2 linked regions of the Homo sapiens genome follow. The protein of the gene in region 2 interacts with the protein of the main gene of each other region in a pairwise test. Each region holds a gene or a part of one and is shown on either strand. Other genes may lie near its edges.

What was found. Proteins that work in one complex are often made in the same cells at the same time.
Region 1: the proteins of GOLGA1 (region 2) and PDCL2 interact in a two-hybrid assay, tested with the Homo sapiens proteins (2 studies listed by BioGRID).

Annotation. Positions count from the first base shown.
Region 1 is NC_000004.12:55,575,065-55,583,191, forward strand, and holds part of PDCL2 (phosducin-like protein 2), read right to left. Parts: intron 7,174-8,127; coding exon 7,053-7,173; intron 5,848-7,052; coding exon 5,757-5,847; intron 1-5,756. UniProt on the Homo sapiens protein: Essential for male fertility, spermiogenesis and acrosome formation.
Region 2 is NC_000009.12:124,930,250-124,939,164, forward strand, and holds part of GOLGA1 (golgin subfamily A member 1), read right to left. Parts: intron 8,618-8,915; 5' UTR 8,463-8,617; coding exon 8,328-8,462; intron 1,158-8,327; coding exon 1,067-1,157; intron 1-1,066. UniProt on the Homo sapiens protein: Involved in vesicular trafficking at the Golgi apparatus level. Involved in endosome-to-Golgi trafficking. Mechanistically, captures transport vesicles arriving from endosomes via the protein TBC1D23.

The sequences.
Region 1 (8,127 bases), on a different chromosome or scaffold from region 2:
TAACCACCTTAGTGTGTTTGAAGTAGTCTCCCAATGTGGGGTCTTCCCTAACTCCAATAGTTAGTGTCAGAATTGAAATGAATTGTAGAACACCCAGTTGGTGTCCAGAAAGTTGGAGAATTGGTTGTGGGGGACCCTGCCCCAACATTTCATGTCAGAAGTGGTATGAGTAAAACATACCAGAGGAACTAAAAAGTACAGTAACTAAAATTAAAAAAATACATTGGAGAGTTCCAAAAGCAGATTTGAGGAAGCAGAAGAATCAGCAACCTTGAAAATAGGACAACTGCAATGATCAAATCTGAGAAAAAAAAAAGAATGAAAAAAAAATAAACAGGGCCTAAAGGGTCTGTGGGATGATATAAAGCAGACCAACACACATGTTGTGTGAATCTCAACAGAAAAGAGAGAGAAAAGAAGCATAAAGGATATTTTAAGAAATAATGGCTGAAAACTTCCCAAATTTGATGAAATACATTAATCTATAAACTCAAGTGTCCAACAAACTCCAAGTATGATAAAAGTATGATAAACTCAAAGACACCCACATGGGGATACATCATAAACTACTGAAAGGCAAGAAGAGACAATGAGAATCTTGAAAGCAGAGAGAAGCAAGTCATCACATACAAGGGATCTTCAATAAGACTATCAGCCAGTTTCTCAGCAGAAATTTTGGAAGCCAAAAAGGCAGTGAGTTGATATTTTTTAAATGCTGAGAGAAAACAACTGTCAAAAGCAAGAATTCGATATTTGGCAAAACTATGCTTCAAGAATGAGGGTAAATTAATGCATTCCTAGATTTAAAAAATAAAAATAAAAACAAAAAAACACCAAGGGACCTAGACCTGCCTAAAAAATATGTGAAAGGAGTCCTTCAGGCTGAAATGAAAGAGCACCAGATAGTATCCAAAGCCACATGAAGAAACGAGGAACATGGTGAAGTTAACTACATAGGGAAATATAATAGCCAGTATTACCATTTGGCTTTTACATAGGAAAATGTAAAAGCCATTATTGGAATTGGTTTCTTTTTTTTTTCTTTTTGAGACAGTCTTGCTTTGTTGCCTAGGCTGGAGTGCCGTGGCGCGATCTTAGCTTACTGCAACCTCTGCCTCCCAGGTTCAAGCAATTCTCACACCTAGCCTCCTGAGTAGCTGGGATTACAGGGGTGTGCCACCATGCCCAGCTAAATTTTTTGTATTTTTATTAGAGACGGGGTTTCACCATGTTGGCCAGGCTGGTCTCAAACTCCTGAACTCAGGCGATTTGCCCACCTCTGCCTCCCAAAGCACTGGGATTACAGGCGTAAGCCATCATGCCTGGCCTAGAGTTGGTTTCTAACTTCTCTTTTTTTCCTGTATGATATAAAAGGTAAATACATAAAGCAATAATAATAATCTATGTTAATGGATGCACAATATATAACAATGTAGTCTGTGACACTAACAAATAAGGAGAAGGATGGAGATGTGTTTACATGCTATTGACTCTAAGTTGGTATTATTCAAAGTAGGCCACTGTAAGACGTTAATTTTTATCCTTAAGATAATCACTATGAAAAAACTAAAAGATACACAGAAAATGAAAGAAGAAGGAAATAAAAATGGTACACTAGAAAAATCAGCTAACTGTGAAAAGAAAGCAGTAATGGAAGACTTAAAAAACAAAAATTATGTAAGAAATACAGAAAACACCTAAGTAGCAGAAGCAACTCCTTTCTTAACAGTACTTACTTTAAATGTAAGTGAATTTTAAATTAATATGATTAATCTCCAACTAAAGGCAAAGACTGGCAAAACAAATTTTAAAAAAAGCATGTTCCAGATTTCTCAGTCCTTTTTTTTTTTTGAGACGGAGTCTTGCTCTGTCGCCCAGGCTGGAGTGCAGTGGCACAATCTCGGCTCACTGCAACCTCTGCCTCCCAGATTCAAGCAATTCTCCTGCCTCAGCCTCCCGAGTAGGTGGGATTACAGGTACAGGCCACTACACCCAACTAATTTTTGTATTTTAGTAGAAACAGGGTTTCACCATGTTGGCCAGGCTGGTTCGAACTCCTGACTCAGGTGATCCGCCTGCCTTGGTCTCCCAAAGTGCTGGGATTACAGGCATGGGCCACTGTGCCTGGCCTTCTCAGGCCTCTTTTATAAGAGCATTAATCCCGTTCATAAAGGGGTAGCCCTCATGACCTAATTACCTCCCTAAGGCTCCACCTCTTAATGCCATCACATTGGGAGGGGATTAGGTTTCAACATATGAATTTGGGGGGGACACAAACATTCAGACCACAGCACCATCATTTAGTGGTTTTTATGGAGGTTTCATTAGATAGGCATGATTGACTAAATCGTTGGCCACTGGTGATTAACTCAATCTCTAGCCCCTCTCCCCTCTCCAGAGAGCAGGGAATAGTGTTAAAAGTTCTAACCTTCTAATCACATGGTTGGTTCCTCTGGCAACCAGCCCTCATCCTAAAGCTACTAGGATCCCCTCCACCAAGGATCATCTCATAAGCATACCAAAGGTACTTTTATCACCTAGCAAATTCCAAGTATGTTTGTGTCAGGAACTGGGGACAAAGATCAGATATATATTTCTCATTATCACAGTTCCAGAATATCTTTTATTCCTGTTTATAACTTCTATTTCTTTATTGATATTCTCTTTTTGATCATACATTATATTCCTATCTTTTTAGCTCTTTAAGCATCCGTAAGATAGTTGTCTTAAAGTCTTTGTCTAGTAAGTCTGACTTCTGGGCTTCCTCAAGTACATTTTCTGTCAGTATATTTTGTTCCTTTGAATGGACTATACTTTCTTGTTTGTGTATGCCTTGTGATTTTTGTTGAAAACTAGATATTTGAATCCTATAATGTGGTAACTTTGGAAATAAGTTCTCCTCCTTTGCTGGGGTTTTGTTTTTGTTTTTGTTTTAATTGTTGTAGGCTGTCTTTGTGCTGGCGATCATTCTGAGGTAGAAGCTTTAAGGTCTTCTCAGGTATTTTTTGAGCCTGCATCTTCCCCGGAGTAAATGCACTGGCTTTCTATATTTTCCCAAAAGCACAGTTTGTTTTGAATCTTTAAAAAAGGTTATAGCTCTTTTAAATTCTCTGATAGCTGCCTGAGCCAGTGGGAGTTCACACAATGGCAGTGAGCCTCTGTCCCTGTACATCCATGTTCAGAAGGAGCAATCTGTAATAAGAACACAGAACCCCAATATTTGGAGGAAAAGGTCCTTATTGTCCACCCTGGCTCCAGCAAGCTGTGTCAGAAATACAGGTTGTCAGCTGCCTGTCATGGAGCTAGGGGTTGAGCATGAACAGCTGCTACTGAACTGAGGGCTGAAATCAACTGATACTGCCATTTACCAGCCAAGTTTTCACTTGGAAACTACAAGCATTCAATATTCTCCAGAGTACTAAAACAGTCACTTCAGACAGTTCCTGCTAGTACAATCTTTGATTAGGTAGAGATGTATTTTTGGAGTTCCCTATTCTGCTATTTTCCCTGATGTGTCATCAGTGGGTTTTTTTTTTTAATGAGTTCTTCAATTAGGGTTTATTTGAAGTTTTCTTATAATTAAAGTTATGCATTACTGAAAATGATACCACAGAGGTGATATGTCCTTCTCAGTACAACATACCAGGGGTTACTTGATCACCTCCCAGCATATTTTACTGGTGATATTAACCTTGATCATCTGCCTAAGATAGTATCTGCCTATAAACTTACTATTTCCTCCTTTATAATTACTAAATATTTGGGGAAGAATTCTTTGAAATTATGCAATATCCTGTTTGTGTTTAAACTTTCAACCAATCATTTTAGCATCCATCACTGGATCTTACCCATAGGAAATTACCACTGTTCTGATGGTGATTTTTCTATTTCTCTAATTTCATTTACACTTATTAATTAAAACTCTTCTGTAAGGGAGAGAGATTACTTCTTCCAAATTTGTTCATGTATTAAGTTATTTATTTATATCACTATGGACTTTTATAAATTTATTTCATTATTTGCTTTACAATCCTATCATATAATTATTGATTTTGTTGTTCAAGTTGTTCTAACTTTGGCCCTTGGGAGATCTGTCCATTTGACTCCTGGGACTTTTTTTTTTTTTAAGTACTTCCTTACCTACTGGCAACATAAGATGCTTCATATTCATATTATACTTTCCTAACACACACCGTGGGATCAAGCAGTTCGCTAAGGAGCACTAATTCCTGTTATTAGAGAATAGTATTTATTTGTTTTTTGTTTGTTTGTTTGTTTGTTTGAGATGGAGTTTCACTCTTGTTGCCCAGGCTGGAGTGCAATGGCACGATCTTGGCTCACTGCAACCTCCACCTCCCAGGTTCAGCGATTCTCCTGCCTCAGCTTCTCAAGTAGCTGGGATTACAGGCATGTGCTACAACGCCTGGCTAATTTAAAGACACGGGTTTCATCATGTTTGCCAGGCTGGTTTCAAACTCCTGACCTCAGGTGATCCACCCGCCTTGGCCTTCCAAAGTGCTGGAATTACAGGTGTGGGTCACCGCACCCTGCCTCAGAAAGATCTGAGTGCTATATGTGCTCATTGCTCCTGGAGTATGGCTGTTGTAACTCCATTCACTGGTGGCTTTTGGTTTTTATTTTTGTTTTGTAGAGACAGGGTCTTACTATGTTGACCAGGCTGGTCTGTAACTCCTAGCCTCAAGCAATCCTCCCACCATAGCCTCCCAAAGTCTGAGATTACAGGCATGAGCCACTGTGCCCAGCCCCAATTCACTGGTTTTTTGTTTGTTTTTTTTTTCGAGGTGGAGTTTCGCTCTTGTTGCCCAGGCTGGAGTGCAATGGCGCAATCTTGGCTCACCACAACCTCTGCCCCACCGGGTTCAAGCGATTCTCCTGCCTCAGCCTCCAGAGTAGCTGGGATTACAGGCAAGCACCACCATGCCTGGCTAACTTTGTATTTTTAGTAGAGACGGGGTTTCTGCATGTTGGTCAGGCTGGTCTCAAACTCCCGACCTCAGGTGATCCGTCTGCCTCAGCCTCCCAAAGTGCTAGGATTACAAGCATGAGCCACTGTGCCTGGTCCACTGTTTTTTTATTGTTAAAATGATCTTGCATTCCTGCAATCAATACTACTTGATCAAGATTTATTATTTCCTTAAATTGCTGGACTTAATTTGCCAATATTTCCTTAAAGATTTTGTGTTTACAGTCATGAGGGATATTTGTAGTACTCTGTTTTAGTGATGTCTTTGTCTGGTTTTAGTATCAGGATAAATACTGGTCTTGTAAAAAGTACTTTAGAAATTAGAACAGGTTCATACATTTCCCAACTTATTTTAGTTGTGAAGTAAGTTGGGAAATTTATGAACCTGTTCCAGTTTCTAAAATAATTTAAGAATAGTAATTAATTATTCATGAAATGATAGTCACCTTTGACAGACATCATGCTAGAAGGAAAATCATGGCCATCTTTTTATTGGCCTCTTATTGCTATTTTCCACTTTAATCGTATGTAGCTTGATGAAGTTATATTGTACATGATTGGATAATTTTCTATTAAATCAAAGGCAAAATATTAAGAAAAAATGATGTAATGATGTAATAAAATTCCACCTTATATAAAGGGAGTTTCAAAATGTTACTTAAAAATTAGTTTTGTTCTTTGTAAAATCTATGTGACAAGACAAATCTCTTTAGTTTTATTCTTATTATACTTCATTCAAAAATTTATAATTAACCCAAATGAATCACTGTACCTATATGTTTCAACAGCCTGCATATCTTCTTCATCAAATTCATCTTCAGCTTCCTTTAGCTGTGCAAGAGTCATCTTTTCAAATGGTTTCACTAAAACAACATAAATTATAGATTATCAAATTGTTTAAAAATTTTTTTACTATACAGTCAATGTCTAGAAAAAAACCGTCTTATACAAAGGAGATCAACAGTATCTTTAAACAGCCGGGTGCGATGGAATCCCAGTACTTTGATAGGTCGAGGTGGGTGGATCACTTTAGGTCAGGAGTTCAAGACCAACCTGGCCAACATGGTGAAACCCTATCTCTACTAAAAATACAAAAATTAGTCAGGTGTGGTGGCAGGCACCTGTAATCCTAGCTACTCGGGAGGCTGAGGCAGGAGAATCACTTGAACCCGAATGGCTGAGTTTGCAGTGAGCTGAGATCGCACCACTGCATTCCACCCTGGCCAACAAAGTTAGACTTGGTCTCAAAAAAACAAACAAAAAAGAGTATCTTTAAACAAACATAAAGCAGCCAGCCACCAAAAAAAGCTATAAATATTATAGAAAGTATAATATTAAAGTATTACTCCCTCAAAGTTCATAGAACTGACAGGCTACATTTAAAACTAGGTATGAAAATCAATTAGATTTCATAAATTTAGATTTCCCTCAAGTACCTAGAAATCTTGATAAATAATACATACTATAAAGAATGATCAAAATAGATGGTAATAAGGCAGAGGGACATGGTGGGAGAAGAAAGCTCACTTGGTTACACACCAGGATATTTCAGCTCTGTTATTAGCATGTGATTTTCAACATGTGAAATTAGTCATTTTAGGTGTCATATCCAAATACTGAAAGTAGTTGAGGGGGGTTATATTAAATGTTTATTTGTTTTGTTTTTTGAGATGGAGTCTTGCTCTGTTGCCCAGAGCAGTGCAGGAGTGCAGTGGCACGATCTCAGCTCACTGCAAGCTCCATCTCCTAGGTTCATGCCATTCTACTGCCTCAGCCTCCTGAGTAGCTGGGACTACAGGCACCCACCACCACACCTGGCTAATTTTGTTTTTGTATTTTTAGTAGAGATGGGGTTTCACCGTGTTAGCCAGGATGGTCTCGATCTCCTGACCTCGTGATCCGCTGGCCTCAGCCTCCCAAAGTGCTGGGATTACAGGTGTGAGCCACCATGCCCAGCCTATACTAAATGATTTCTAATGTCCTCTCTCCCACTATGTTCATGAAATACCTTAGTACTAACTTAACTGTATTATTCCCATCATCCAGCCCACCAAATCTACGACCATACCCATTGCTTCTTTCTGTAAACGTAAAACCATTTCTTCAATTTCATCTTTTGACTCTTCTTTAGGAGGAAGAATGCCGAAATCTCTTAAAATGTCATTCCATTCTGTATCTTCATTGGGATCCTACACAAAAAGAAAAGAAAAGAAAATTAACATGGTTGTACACTTTAATATGTATTTGGAAAATTCATTAAGATGTAGCACTTCCAAGTATTCAATTGTTCATGAACTCTACAGTTAATTGGTTTTGAAGAATAAAGCAAAGTGACCTACTTTTTCCTGCTTCCCAGCACTAATGGGATTATATGCTCCACTCAAAATTTTAATAAAATATCAATTTAGAATACATATAGAGAATATTAAGGAAGTATCTCCTAAGTCATGGAAAATTTGCTGAAGACTGTATTGGGCAAAACCAATTCACATCATACACAAATACAGTTTGGTTTCTTTTTCTACAGAAGCATTCAAGACCATCAGATGAACTTCCTTTTTTCTTTTTTTTATTATACTTTAAGTTCTAGGGTACATGTGCACAATGTGCAGGTTTGTTACATATGCATACATGTGCCATGTTTGTGTGCTGCACCCATTAACTCGTCATTTACATTAGGTATATCTCCTAATGCTATCCCTCCCCCCTCCCCCAAGCCCATGACAGGCCCCGGTGTGTGATGTTCCCCTTCCCGTGTCCAAGTGTTCTCATTGTTCAATTCCCACCTATGAGTGAGAACATGTGGTGTTTGGTTTTTTGTCCCTGTGACAGTTTGCTGAGAATGATGGTTTCCAGCTTCATCCATGTCCCTACAGAGGACATGAACTCATCCTTTTTTATGGCTGCATAGTATTCCCTTTTATTTTATTTTATTTTTTTTGAGACAGAGAGATTCTTGCTCTATCACCCAAGCTGGAATGCAGTGGCACAATCTTGGCTCACTGCAACCTCCACCTCCTGGGTTCAAGTAATTCTCATGCCTCAGCCTCCTGAGTAGCTGAGACTACAGGCTTGCTCCACCAGGCCCAGCTAATGTTTGTATTTTTACAGGGTTTCCCCATGTTGCTCCAGCTGGTCTTGAA
Region 2 (8,915 bases):
CTCTCTCTCCAACATTAAACAAATGTAAAATTACTTTACCTCTGTTACTGATATTATTTATGGGTAGGAGTAACAGGATAGCAACAATTAAGTTTAAGGCAGATGGAATTAAGACTCTAGCATCAAATAAATCTGGGTTTGGATCCCAGCTCTACCACTTACTACTTGTGAGGCCTTAACCTTGCTAAGCCTAATAAGGCTCTAGTGAGGACAAAATAATTAACTGGTAGTTGTGAGCTATGCTATGAACCTTTGATAACTACATAAATACAAATACTTCACATACAATTTGGTGAATTTGGGTCTGATAGCTACACAAATATAAATATTTCACATACCACTTGGTGAACTTCGGTCTGCTGTTTTACTCCAATAAAATGGGCATTAAAAGGCCAAGGGACAAAAAGAGACACAGAAGCCATGAACCACTTTACAGGATGAAGCTTTCCAAATGTATCCACTGGCAGAAACCAAAATAATAACTCACAATTCTATCATGACCATGCCCTCCTCAGGCAAAGGATATAATGGGAGCTGTGTAAATTGTAAACTGCAGACAAAAGACATAATGAGAGTGACACCTTCTATGCAGGTGCTGAAGTCAGAAATACCATTGAAAAGTGGCCCAAAGACCTACAACAACACTTACACAGGTGGTATGAGCTGCAGGAAGTGGCAACACAGCACCAATCTCTGGTGCTGATGAATCCAATATCTGTTGGCCATTCCCTTTAAATACTAACGCCATCCCTTTCCACCTGAAAGCAGGCTATGCTAATGGTGGAAGATGGTCAAATCTATTGTACATATATTATTATTATCTTTTATTTCCATGGCTAGAAACCTCAGGAGCAGAAAAAATTTTTTAATAAACTTTCAAATTCAGTTTTGAATTTATACTATTTACTACACTAACAAAAGAAGAGGGTATACTTGCTCCTTTCTAAAAAGATCAAAATGATATGTGAAAATAACTATAAAGTCATCCTATATGGCTATTTTATAGGAAGAGAGTCAAGCAAGGCAAGTTTCCTGTTGTTTGCTTTTTATGAGTTCTTAGACATACCAGAAAGTCTGGCCTCTAACTTCCGTATCTGTTCATTCCTTCTCAGAAGCTGGGATGAAAGATCTTCTCTGGAGCTGCTTCCATCGGAAGCCTGTTGAGGTAGACACAAGGAAGGTCGTATTCATATATGTGTGAGACCACAATACTGAGCCAGAAAGTGACAAGTCTTATTTTAGGTTTGGTTACACTTTAATTAATTGTAATCACTGAAAAGCTGGGCCTAGTTTCTCTACCTGGAAAGTGGAAGCAACGCTTTCTTCCTCTTATAAAGTGAAGGAGAGAGGAGATGCTAAACAGATCAATTTTATGTGTACGCATGCTACTGAAATAAATAATAGTAAATAGATCCATTATTACAGCAAGTATATAATACAAAAACTATATTTGCCATGATAAAAAAATCACTTTATCTTTCCAAAAGTAAAGTCCTGGGATAAAGAAGGCGGGGGTTCTTTAGGGATCAAAAGCTGGTCTATGACTACGAATCTTTCACCGATATTGATAAAGTTTCAGTATCTTCATCTATGAAACAAACGGATATCAATCTAAAACTCTAACTTGCATCATAGACTTCAGCAGATAATATGCATTCAACAAACCAATATATTAATGAGGCATACATTTTTCCCCAACAAACCAGATTATTTTAAAATAAATGAATACTACTATTGCTATAGGCACTGCTTGCAATTGCTAATAACTCAGTTTTTAAAATCTCTTTTACTTTTCATTATACAATTTTTCAAAATATAGAAAGGGAGAGAGATTGGTCTAAATAATGCTCTCCATCTACTTTCACAATTGCTGATGCTTTCCCTTATTTGCTTCATCAATTTTTATTTTTCTGAAGTAATTTAAATAACAGACATCATGGCATTTCATCCTAAATACTCCAAAAATTAAGGCTATTTCTCTTCATAGGCAACATATGATTATCATTCCTAACAAAAAATACTAACATCCAGTCCTTAATCATGTTTCCCATTGTATCCCCAAAATGTTTTTAAAGATTATTCAATAATTCACCTCAAATATTCATCTACATGTCCAGCCACTTGCCCATCCAATATGTACTGAGAGTCAGGACAGTGGACAGTTAAGAGGAGAGTCTCTGGTGTCAGAAAACCTTGCTTCAGGTTGCAGCTTTACCACTTACGAGCTGTAAGAACTTAGGCTCATTACTCAACTTCTCTGTGCACTGGTTTCCTCATTTGCAATCTGTGATAACAAACAGCATTTGCCTCACAGAGCTGTGATGAGGATTAAGTAAATCAATACTTGTCAAATCCCTAAAACACAGCCTGGCACATATTAGCTTTAATATGTGTCATCTATTACTAGTTGTCTTAGTCTGTTTGAGTGCTATAATGAAATGCCATAGAATGTGTGACTTATAAACAACAGAAATGTATTTCTCACAGTTCTGGAGCCTAGGAAGTCCAAAATTAAGGTGCCAGCAGATTTGGTGTCTAGTGAAGACCCACTTTCTGGTTCATACATGACACCTTCTAGCTGTGCCCTCACATGGTGGAAGGGGCAAGGCAGCTTTCTGGGGCCTCTTTTGTAAGAGCACTAATCTCATTCATGAGGGTTCCTCCCTCATGAGCTAATCATCTCGGAGACGATTCACCTCCTCATTCCATCACTCTAGTGATTAGGTTTCAACATATCAATTTTTGGAGACATACATTCAGACCACACCACTAGCAGTATAAGAAGCTGTTATGATTATTACTGTTAGTGAGACATAGGAGACATCCTATGTCTCACTACTGTGCTAAGCACTAGGAATAGTGGTGAAACAAAGAGCTCCTATCCAAAATAACAGCAGCAGCAGCAACAGAAGCTAATTATGAAATGCTTAGAGCCAGACGCCATGCTAAGTGCTTTAGATTCTACGCAGAAGAACTGACATTACAGGCCTCAGACTGTTATCCTTAGAAAGGCCTGCTTTTAAGGTTGGTCCTTGGCTGGCATCTGGGAACTTAGATTTTGGGAGGGTTCCCATCATTCTGTTAAGAATGGCTCATTGTGCCTAAAATGTTTGTGCAAAAATATGGGTTTATGCTGAATACCTGGTTTCCTTCTGGAGTCTGGATTATTTATTTATTTATTTATTTATTTAGACAGAGTCTCGCTCTGTCACCCAGGCTGGAGTGCAGTGGTACAATGTTGGCTCACTGTAACCTCTGCCTCTTGGGTTCAAGAGATTCTCCTGCCTCCTGAGTAGCTGGGACTACAGGTGTGTGTCACCATGCTCAGCTAATATTTGTATTTTTAGTAGAGACAGGGTTTCGCCATGTTGGCCAGGCTGGTCTCAAATTCCTGACCTCAACTGATCCATCTGCCTTGGTCCCCCAAAGTGCTGGGATTACAGGTGTGAGCCACCCTGCCTGGCCTGGATTCTGGAATTTTGATACATAGTAGGCAGAGGGTGTTCACATGACCAGTCCCCAATAAAAAGCCTGGACACTGAGTCTCTAATGAGCTTCCCTGGTAGACATTTTACATGTGTTGTCACAACTCATTGCTGGGAGAATGGAGCATGTCCTATGTAATTCCACTGGGAGAAGAATCTTGGAAGCTTGCACCTGTTTCCTCCAAGCTTTTCCCCATGCACCTTTTCCCTTTGCTGAGTCTGTTTTAGATCCTTTCACTGTAATAAATGATAGCAGTGAGTAAAACTATATGGTGAGTCTTGTGAGTCCTCCTAGTGAATAATTAAATCTGGGGATGATCTTGGGGATCCTTGACACACATACTTTAATAAAGGTAGATACAGTTCCTATCCCCATTTTATAGATGTGAAAAATAAGGCAAGGAAAAATGAAGAAATTTGCCCAAAGTCACATAATAATAATAGAGCAGATATGACTCTATAACCTGACCTGAGTTCCTAAGGGCTACACTTTATTGTCTTTCATGAAACTCCCAGTTCAGTGGAAGAGACAAACAAGCAAATCATCAATAATAATGCAGTACAGCAGGTGCTATTACAGAGGTTAGCAGAAGACAAGGCACCAAACAGCCAGGAGGGGTAAAGGGTAGGGGGCTGCCAGAGGAGAAGGTCAGGTCAAGGGAGTTTGCTGGAAGTAACACATGAGCTGAGTCTTAAGATGCACAAGAGTCTGTCAGAGGAATGCAGGAGTGAAAGGGGAAATGAGACATTCTAGAGAGAGGAAATAGCATGTGCAAAAATTGTAAGCATGAAAGAATGTGGTCCATTCTAGAAAGTGCAATAAATTCAGTCTGGCTGTGGCACAGGGTGTAGCAAAGTACAGTGAGATAATGCTGGCCATATAAGCTGAGAGAAGACCATGACAGTTTACCATTATGCTATAATAATGAGTCTGTACTTCATCCTGAAAATAATGGGGAAGCCACTGAGTTTTATGAGTTTTAAGTACTGGAGAGACATGAACAGATCTGCTTTTAGAAAGATCACTTTGGGCTGTGCACAGTGGCTAGCACCTGCAGTCCCAGTACTTTGGGAGGCCAAGGTGGGCAGATCGTTTGAGCCCAGGAGTTCGAGACCAGCCTAAGCAACATGGCAAAACTCCGTCGCTACAAAAAATACAAAAATTAGCTGGGTGTGGCGGCACGTGCCTGTAGTCCCAACTACTCACGAGGCTGAAATGGGAGAATCGCTTGAGCCCAGGAGGTTAAGGCTGCAGTGGGCTGTGATCGGGCCACTGCACTCCAGCCTGGGTGCCAGAAAGAGATCCCTGTCTCAAAGAAAAAAAAAGGTCACTTTGGGGACAGGGAACCCAGATAGACTACAAGTTTGTCCCAGAAAGAAAGGCAGCTTGAAATCAAATGATAGTATAGGTTGAGTATCTCTTGCCCAAACAGTTTAGGATCAGAAGTGTTTTGGAGTTTGGATTTTTTCAGATTTTGGAATGTCTGCATATACATAATATAATATTTTGGGGATGGGACCCAAGTGTAAACGTGAAATTATGTTCCATATACGTTTTATACACATAGCCTGAACATAATTTTATACAATATTTTAAATGATATGCATTAAACAAAGTTGTGTTAAGTATTTATGTGTAAATTTTCCACTTGTGGCCATGTTGGCGCTCAAAAAGTTTAAGATTTTGGAGTATTTCAGATTTCAAATTTTCAGATTAGGGATGCTTAACCTCTGCTAGTAAATGTACTACTAGAAGATGGAGTAGGGAGGCAAGTTTGAGACATTTAAGAAATGAAAGCTGCCTGTAATCCTAGCACTTTGGGAGGCCAAGGCAAGAGGATTGCCTGAACTCAGGAGTTCAAGACCAGACTGGGCACACGGTGAAACCTCATCTCTACTAAAAATACAAAAAACTAGCCAAGTGTGGCGGTGTGTGCCTGTAGTCCCAGCTACTTGGGAGGCTGAGTGAGGCAGGAGAATTGCTTGAACCCAGGGTCCAGCCTGGGCGACACAGCAAGACTCTGTCTCCAAAAAAAAAAAAAAAAAAGAAAGAAATAGAAGCCATAATACGTGTTGACTGATTGGACACCAAGAAGTGAAAGGAGGGAAGAGCCTAAAATACCTCCAGGGTTTCTGGCTGGTGACTTGGGAAGATGAAGGTGCACATTTGGAGATGGAAATAATGAATTCAATTTTGTTCATTTAGAATTTGAGATGCCACAGAGGAGGGATCTGTTTGGAGAAACATATGCAGTTGGATATAAGGGTCTGGAGATAGGAACTGAGGATCAGGCTGTATTAAGTTCAAAACTTGAGAAACCCCAAAATAAATTACTTCCTGAATCTGGGTCAATCTCTGTATTTGGAATACATTACTAAATAAAAGACTTCATTTAGGGTGTCAGCATGAAGGCAAAACAGGTCCATCTGTCACAGAACCCAGCCTTAAAACTACATCCTTCAGCCCGATGCTCAAATGTGTGCTTATATTTCCTCTTAAATATAGGAGCCAGTGATAATGTAGATCTGGTAATCTTATTGCTCCATCCCGATAACCTAATAACTTCTGCCATGTAATCTGACCTGGGATCCAGGCAGTACAAGAAAGCAGGAGGAAGACTCATCTGACAACGGAAACAATTCAAATGTCTATCGCCAGGAGAAGACAGACATTAAATGTGGCCTTTTCAAATGCTGGGATCTTTTTTTTAAAAAAAATCTTTAGAGACAGAGTCTTGCTCTGTTGCCTAAGCTGGAGTACAGTGGCACGATCATAGCTCACTACAATCCCAAACTCCTGGGCTCAAGCGATCCTCTTGCCTCTGCCTCCCAAGAAGCTAGGACTACAGGCATACCACCACCAACCAGGCAAATTAAAAAAAAAAAAAAAAACTTTTGTAGATATGCAGTCTTGCTATGTTGCCCAAGCTGGTCTTGAACTTCTGGCCTCAAGCAGTCCTTCCGCCTTAGCTTCCCAAAGCATTGGGATTACAGGCGTGAGCTTCTGTGTCCAGCCTGGAATCTTATACAGCAGTAAAAATAAATGAACCACAGCTTCCTGTAACATGGATGCATTTTATAAGCATGTTGAATTAAATTTTAAAAAAGGAAATCCAAGAAGTCTACAGTGTGCAACTTTTATAACTTCAAAAACAAGCAGTATTAAATAATAAATTGTTTATGAATACATACATATCTGGTAAGATATTTTAAAAAGCAAGTAAATGAAAAATACAAAATTTAGAATAGTGGTTATGCTATCCTAAATTGGGTAGAGGAAATTGGAAGAAACATATAAGTGGCTTAACAGAATTGATAGTGTTCTATCTCTTCAGATGAGTGATAGATTTACTTTATGCTTTATACTTTACATATATATTACATACATTCTTTTATATATATATCCAGCATTATAAATGAGTTTTAAAGAAATTTATTGCCAAGTGTGGTGGCTCACCCCTGTAATCCTAGCACTTTGGGAGACCGACGCGGGAGGATCACGAGGTCAGGAGTTCCAGACCAGCCTGGCCAACACAGTGAAACTCTGTCTCTACTAAAAATACAAAAATTAGCTGGACGTGGTGGCGGGTGCCTGTAGTCCCAAGCTACTCAGGAGGCTGAGGCAGGAGAATCGCCTGAACCCGGGAGATGGAGGTTGCAGTGAGCCGAGATTGTGCTGCTGCACTCCACCCTAGGTGACAGAGCGAGACCCTATCTCAAAAACAATAAACTAAAAACAAAAAAAAATTAGCCGGGTGTGGTCGTGGGCACCTGCAGTCCCAGCTACTTGGGAGGCTGAGGCAGGAGAACTGCTTGAACCCGGGAGGTGGAGGATGCAATGAGCTGAGATCATGCCACTGCACTCCGGCCTGGCTGACAGAGTGAGACTCTGTCTCAAAAAAAAAAAAAAGAAGAGAAAAGAAATTTATCTAACTTAAGAGGATCCTGTCATATGCAAAAGCCACACTTTATTTTTTAAGCATGACATTTCCCTCATATAGCAACATCTTCATTTTTTGAAATCTTATAGTCACAAATGTATTTTACTAATAAGAAACATATTGTAGGCTGGGCATGGTGGCTCACGCCTGTAATCCCAGCACTTTGGGAGGCCAAGGTGGGCGGATCGCCTGAGCTCAGGAGTTTGAGACCACCCTGGGCAACATGGTAAAAACCTGTCTCTACTAAAATACAAAAAATTAGCCAGGCATGGTGGAACACACCTGTAGTCCCAGCTACTCGGGAGGCTGAGGCACGAGAATTGCTTGAGCCCCAGAGGCAGAGGTTGTGGTGAACCAAGATCAGGCCACTGCACTCCACTTTGGGCTACAGAGCGAGAATCCATCTCAAAAAAAAAAAAAAAAGAAAGAAAAAAGAAAAAAAGCAACATACTGTAATCACTGGGGCCATCTTTCCAACAATCGTCCCAATACAACAATGCACTCTTGCTAACCCCATACCACAACTCAGAGACCTTGTTAAGCAGCAATGACTTAGTTGTTATATAAGTATATATGTCTGCAATGAAAACAGGCCCAGACATTTTCAGAAATGAAATGCAAAAGAAGATGTATAAGGTATATAGACGGAAAAACAGTACAAGAGGACACTGGAGAGAATATGGAGAGGAACTCACAGAAAAATAAGGAAAAAAATATAGAGTACCTTAACATTTACAAACCAAACATTAACAAAAAGGTACCTCAGAGTAAGAAGAATCAGATGTACAGGCTCTTGTACAGCTATAAACCATGAAAGGTATGAAATAATCAAGCAATTTAAAATATTTATTGGAAGAATACCCTGCAAAAGTATCTTTATTTCTTAAGTAAAGGTACTTACAAAGTCATCTCCTGAGTCAGCTCCCATTGAGGCAACTGATTCCTTGCTCACAGACCGTGGGATCCTAGTAGCACCTCCTGGCCTCTGAGCAACAGCAGTCTCTTCTGCAATTTTCTTCTTCAGTTTTGCAAACATGTTTGCTGTGTGGCTATCCTGCACAGATGACGAGCTCTCAGTAGTCCTGGTGCCTGTGTTCAGGATTCAGACAGAGGCGCCTACAAAGTTTCAGACATCCAAGCTAGCTGCATTCCCACTTAAATGTGGGCCAAGGGCTTATGGCAACACAGGATCTACAAATCAGATGAAAGAGACAGTTCAAAAGTTAAACATTGGAAAGATTTCGCATCTGAGTTGTTAAGTTTTAGATTTCAAAACTAAGTTTCATAACTTACATGTACACTTATAGAACACAATTACTAAACATTTAAAAAGCACTCAGGTGCTTCATATGCATATACAGATGAAGAAACCCAGTCTCAAGAAGATGAAGTAACCTACCAAAGATTGTGTGGCTAAGTGGAAGGGCTGGTATTTGAACAGAGGACTCTGATTCACAAATCTCTACGTTTTTTTTTTTTAATTACATGT